Linked DNA regions of Homo sapiens: region 2 is linked to region 1. The links come from fine-mapping of genetic effects on gene expression. A gene starts in region 1. The other region holds a variant in brackets. All regions are shown on one strand. Distances are between the middles of the regions.

Region 1 (2,905 bases):
AATTTCACCCATTAGCATCCCCAGACATTAACCCCTGCCTCCCCATAGCACTCTGGGCAGAGGATCTCTGCCCAGCCACCTCCACACCCTGCCAAGGCGAGGAAGGGAGGAGGGAAGAATGGAGTGAGGCACACCTGATGCCCCTCTGTTTTCCATCCCCCTTGCTCTCAGACCCCAGGATAAACTCCCTGTCATCCCACACAGATCTGGGACAGGGGCCTGAATGACAGGTGTCAGAGCCCACAAGGCTGAGCCTGGCCCCCTGGGGGGCTGTGCAGTGCAGTGGTTAAGAACTTGTCTTCTGGAGACAGCATCTGTCTTAGCCTTTCCCGTTGGCCTCCCTTTGGGGTCAGCCCCTCCAGGAGCCATTAGCTACCCGAGGGGAGGGTAGCTACAGACACCACAAAATGTCTGAGATGCCAGGATATTTTGGATGCTCATCTTAGCCAGGTCTGTGCGTAGAGAGGGAAATCAGATCACTTATTTTTTCGGAGTAACAGAAACAGAGTCTCTAGTGATATCAAAAGCCTCTAAAGGAGGACCACCCTTTATGCCTGAGTCAGACCACCACAGACACTTGGAATCCCAGTGCTGGGGGCTACCTCCAAAGGTCATTTGGTCTGGCCCTTGCTTTTTGGGTGAGTCAGTGTCAAGACCACACAGAGCAGAGGGTTAGTCACTGAGGCACTTAGGGTGGTGCCTCCCCCTACCCAGAGATGAAGTCACCAAGAGTACCCAGGATTATCACTATGAGGGAACAGGTCTGGGACTGGCACCCCAACGCTGCCCGCCACCACACCCACTGCTGCTGTATTGGGAAACCTACATGCCCACGGCGGCTGGAAAATGGACAAAGGAAGCAGGGGGGTGTTCAGGGCCCCCAATGCCATTTTCCACTCCTGCTCCCAGCCAATCAAGCTGGGGAGGCCACGTTTCCCTTCAGGATCCCCTAATTTATCCCAGCCTCCAGCAGGGTAAGGGGGCTAACCTAGCATTCAACAAAAGGGGAAGAGGAGGAAAGAAATGAGTGGTCTTCTGAGACCTGTGGCTGGAGCAGCTGAAGGCAGGGGAGGTGGGGGAGATGGCAGGGGGAACCTGGAGGCCTTCCCAGCCCAGGCCACCTCTCTGAGAAAGCTCCCACTTGCTCAGAATAAAGGTGCAAATGCGGGTGGGCTCTGGGTCATCTATGTTAGGGAAGAAAGTTACTGACAGTTGTGCCCAGAGCAGCCGGATGTCTCCCAAACCCGGGACCACTACCCCAGCAGGCTCTGCGACCAGACCACCTCCTGAGGGCAAACGTACACCTGCCCGCATTCAGCGCCGCCCCCTGCCCCCTTCACCGCAGGTCCCCTGGGTGCCAATGGGCACAGAAGTTGGGAGCTTTACTGACCGTCTGCGTCAAAGTGCTTCCATATTTCCAGGAACTGGGACGCCGTCAGCTCGGCCAGGTGCAGGTAAGGGGGCTGCTGCTGCGGGCCAGCCATGGCGAGCCGCTCGGAGACCTCAGCCTGCACCGCTCCCGCTCCGCGCCGGCTGGGCTCTGGCACTCGCGCTGGGGTTGTGCGCCACGCTGCCCTTATATACGCTCTGGAGCCTGCGCCTGCGCCCGGCCGCCAGAAGGGGGCGCGCGCGCTCAGGGAATCCGACCGGGGCGCGGCGCGGCGGGGGCGGCGGCGCGAGAGGCTCGGCCCGGACTCCTAGAGGGCCCTTACCTCTGCGCTGAGACCCCTCGGCGCGGGGCCAGGGACACCCGGAGGATTTTCGGTGAAAATGAGGGAGAGGCTGCCCTTGCCTTCCCTCCCGACCGTCTTGAGTACATCCACCACTTATTATTGCTGGCAGTAGCAATAATAATAACAGCAGTAACAACACTAATAGTAATACTAACACAAACTTGACAAATATTTAGCACTCGGGCTTCGGAGTTCACTAGGTCTCTGTCGTGCCTCCTCTCTTCTGATCCTTCCACAGCAGGAAGAGCTGGGACCACTTTTCTGATGAGGTACTTGTGACTTCAGATGATTAAGTGACTGGCCCAGCAAATTAGTGGCAGGGCTACAATTTGAACTCAGCACTCTTTCCACGCCGCACGTGGCTCCTTCATGGGGCTCAGTCTTGCAGAGCAGCCAAGAGTTCTCAAGGCTTTAGTGGGGAGCAGCTGGAATCAGCAGTGCCCCGGGAGGATTCCGATGGAAGTGGTGTGGGGTGGGGGTGGGGGGCTTCCACTGTCTGTTTGGGTCTTCGTATATCCGTCCCCTCGGAGCCTCCCTCCACCCCTGGTACCTGCCTCACGCTGGCCATGCTCTGGGGGGCTTTTAGACATTTGGCCAGGGGGTGGCAGAACTAGATCAACCCGTACCAGGTCTTAACCACGCCCACCTAGGGACATCGTGGGAATGTGCCTGCTCCAGTGGACAGAGAACAACGTCCAACTCTGTCTTGGGGATGTTCTGAGCTGGTCTCAGAGAAAATAGACGCAGCTACTGAGCGCACATCCTGAGGGCAGCAGACAGGACTCCCCAGCAGGGAGCTGGGCCCTCTCCCCATTCTCTCCTGCGGTCTGAGCCCTTAGGGGTCTGTCCTGGCCTTGTGGTGTGGTAAGGTAAGACACATTACCCACAGAGTGACAGCATCATCCCTCCTTTCTCCCCTCTCCTGCTACGGAGTGACTGAGACATGAATTGGCGATCTTTAACATGTGCTAATGAGTGTTAGCTGAACCACCTTCCAAGAGGAGAGTGAAAGGCAAGGAGGTAAGTGAGAATGAAAAGGAGGTCGCTGGGGGAGAGGGGAACCCAGGAGGAGACAGAGAGAGGGTTGTCCCTTGGAGAGAGGGCCAAGCCCAGAGCGAGTCTCAAAGGGGCAATAGAGAATGCAGGTTCCAAAACCACTTGTTCTTTGCCTA
Region 2 (2,905 bases), 350 kb after region 1:
TATTCTGCAAGGCTCAGCATGTGCTGGTCCCTGCGTTCCTCTCCAGATTTGCTCTGTGCTTCTGGCACTGACCTTTCTGTTTACCCAACACACCGGCCTCTGTCCTGCCCAGTGCTGTTCCTGTCCAACTGCCCCCTTCTTTGCTGGAAGCTCCTCCCCAGCCCCACCTAGCTGTCCCTGCCCCTTCTTCAGACTTCAGCTTCACCATCCTTCTGCAGGGAAGCCTTCTCCAAGATCCATCCTTAGGCCAGATCCCCTGTCATGGACATTGGTACTCCCATCTCCTTGGTGATTCACATCACGCCTCTGCTTATGGCTTGGTGTCCATCTTCCCAGCATCTCTTAATCCCTGTGAGGCCAGCAAGCACACCTGCCCTATCACCTCTGGAGCCCCAGAGCCCAGCACAGTCCCCAGCACAGAGTACATCCTCAAAGGGTGTTTCTTGGTGAATCAGCTGCTCCCACCTGGGTATTTGTAGAGAGAAGGAGATCATTTCATACCTGGCTTGAGATTCCTCTCTCTCAGCTTCCTGGCACCCGCCAAAGAGAAAGGTTCCAGGCATAAATGTCACCTAGAATAGACAAAAAAAAAAAAAAAAAGCCACCTGGTTTCCAGACAGACTGTCTCTGTGTAGGACGTCTGAAAAACATAAACCACATAAAAGTGGCTAAAGGTCACTTTTATCAGACATACACGAACACTAACCTTTCTTATCCAGTTAGGATTCTTCTAAGCCTTACAGTTAGTAAAAGAAACAGAAGTGTAAGAGAGGGTTTTCTTTTTCTTTTATTAGATAGGTCTGAGGTCGCCTAGACACTCTCATGTTCCTTCACAACACATGTACATCTGCGGTGCGTGTGCATGCACATGTGTGCATGTGACTTTGTAGGCAATTCTCACTCATCTATTTAAAGCATCCCTCTTGTTTGAGCTCACATTTTTTTCCCCAAGTTGGCCCTCATGTCACATCTAAGAACAAAGAAAGAAGTAAAATGGACAAGCATGCTAAATAAGTCCTCGGTAAGAGGAAAAGGCAGCCATTGCCTTTGAAGCCTGTGAGTTTGTGCCCGTGACAGGAAGCTGGGTCAACCATGGTGGATGGTGGTCTCTCCCCCTCCCACATCTGCATGTAATGAGAAAGCTGGCAGGAAGTGCCGGGGCTGGCCATTCATGACCACACAGCTGTCGCTGCAGGAGCCACCCTTTTATTAGGTCCATCTCTTCAGTCTAACTGATCAGCTTGATAACAACACAATGCTTCATGGCACCTGTGTGAAAGAGAAGCACAAGGAAACGGTGCACTTGAACCAGCTTTTACCTTTAAGAGGCCAGACTAGAGAGCCAACCGTCAGGGAGCCGAGCAGCCTCTGGCTTGGCTGGCATCTCTGCCCAGTCTCAGAGCGGGGAAGCTGAGGCCGCACTAGAACTTAGAGCATGTGGGCCAAGTGGTCTCCACGGACAGCTTTGGCTCTTCGTTTGTGAATCAGATTATAAATAAATCGAATACAAGGGCCTAAAGGGAGCCAAGTCCTGCAGCAAAGGAACATGTTATTCTCACACTGATTTTTCTATGATGAGCGCCAGCCAGCCAATATGGAGATTGGAAGAGGAGGGTGGAAGGCCTGGAAGGAGGCTG[A/G]AGAAGGAGCCTCATTTTCTGGATGCTTCCATCTATGTCTTCATCATTCCTCAATTTCTGTTGCTTCAAAAGTAGATTTTTTTTTTTAAACAAAGTCTCGCTCTGTCACCCAGGCTGGAGTGCAGTGGCACAATCTTAGTTCACCACACCCTTAAACTCCTGGGCACAAGCCAAGGACTACTGTAGCTGGGACTACAGGCGTGCACCATTATACCTGGCTAATTTCTGGTTTTTTTGTTGTTTTTTGTTTGTTTGTTTGTTTGTTTTGTAGAGACAGGGTCTTTCTATGTTTCCCAGGCTAGTCTCAATCTCCTAGGCTCAAGTGATCCTCCTACCTCAGTCTCCCGAAGTGCTAGGATTACAAGTGTGAGCCACTGTTCCTGGACCAAAAGTGGAACTTTTCTAAGATGTGGTGTGTTAGTGGTAGTTGGAGTCCTGGGCTGCCGAATCAGATGTGGCTGGTTAGAATCCAAGCGCTGTGCTCCTCCTAGCCATGTGACCTTGTGCTGCAGTTGACTTACCTGTAAAATGGTAGTCTAAAAGAGTTGCTGTGAGGATTAAATGAAGTGTATCTTAACATGCATATGTCCCTGAGACATGCCAAGCACTCCCAAATTGGTGGCTGTTTTTAGGTTCTCTAAGGGTCTCTTCCTTTGTACCAAATGCTGCTAAGTGAAGCAGCCCCGGAATCCTATAAGGGCTCCTACGGGTCCTCCTACGGGTCCTCCTACAGGAGCTCTAGGGTCCTTAGACAACCACAGATGGACCCAGATTCCTTTTACTTCCAACAAATGATAGAAAATCCTTTTCTTATACCAGGCTGCATTCATCAAGGCCAAAGCCAGGCTTTAGCCAAGCTTTGCTGTGGCCTGTGTGTGGCTTAAGGGGGCCAGGGCCAGGCAGGCCTCCCCTCCCTACCTGTCACTCCTCCCTGCAGCCAGATAAGCCCAGACCTTGGCTTAGAGGCAGTTCCTTGTTCTGCCCAAGGGCCCAATAAGAAAATAAAAATGTTTAGGGGAAATGTGATTATTTTTTCTTTCAGAATAAGCATTACTTTATTGAATCCCACAAGGGCAGGCACTAAGTACCCTTAAACCACAGCTGTCCCTGGGTAGCTCAGGGTGCTGGTGTCCGAGTCAGACTTTGGCTCAGCCACCTGCCCCATGTGACCCTGCTGGGTGGCTGAGCCTCCCTGAGCCTCGGCTCTTGTGTGAAATGAAGGAGGTTAATAATGGTGCCTTCCACAGAGGAATGTGGTGAGGATGCTA

The links. PIP is the estimated chance that this variant, and not a neighbour inherited with it, causes the effect. A credible set is the group of variants that fine-mapping cannot tell apart.
Region 2: its variant is the best candidate, but not a certain one, in a credible set for the expression of CALB2 in ileum (GTEx, PIP 0.59).

What each region holds. Positions count from the first base shown.
Region 1 is chr16:71,357,372-71,360,276 of GRCh38, reverse strand. CALB2 (calbindin 2) reads right to left here and starts at 1,554. Exons shown (of 11, transcript NM_001740.5): 1 at 1,391-1,554. The coding sequence starts at 1,484. RefSeq lists a silencer at 1,526-1,755 and an enhancer at 858-1,823.
Region 2 is chr16:71,010,543-71,013,447 of GRCh38, reverse strand. All of the region lies in intron 23 of HYDIN (HYDIN axonemal central pair apparatus protein), which reads left to right. Among named protein-coding and RNA genes, the nearest start is that of VAC14, 210 kb to the right of the region's middle. The variant A/G (reference allele first, on the strand shown) is at 1,638.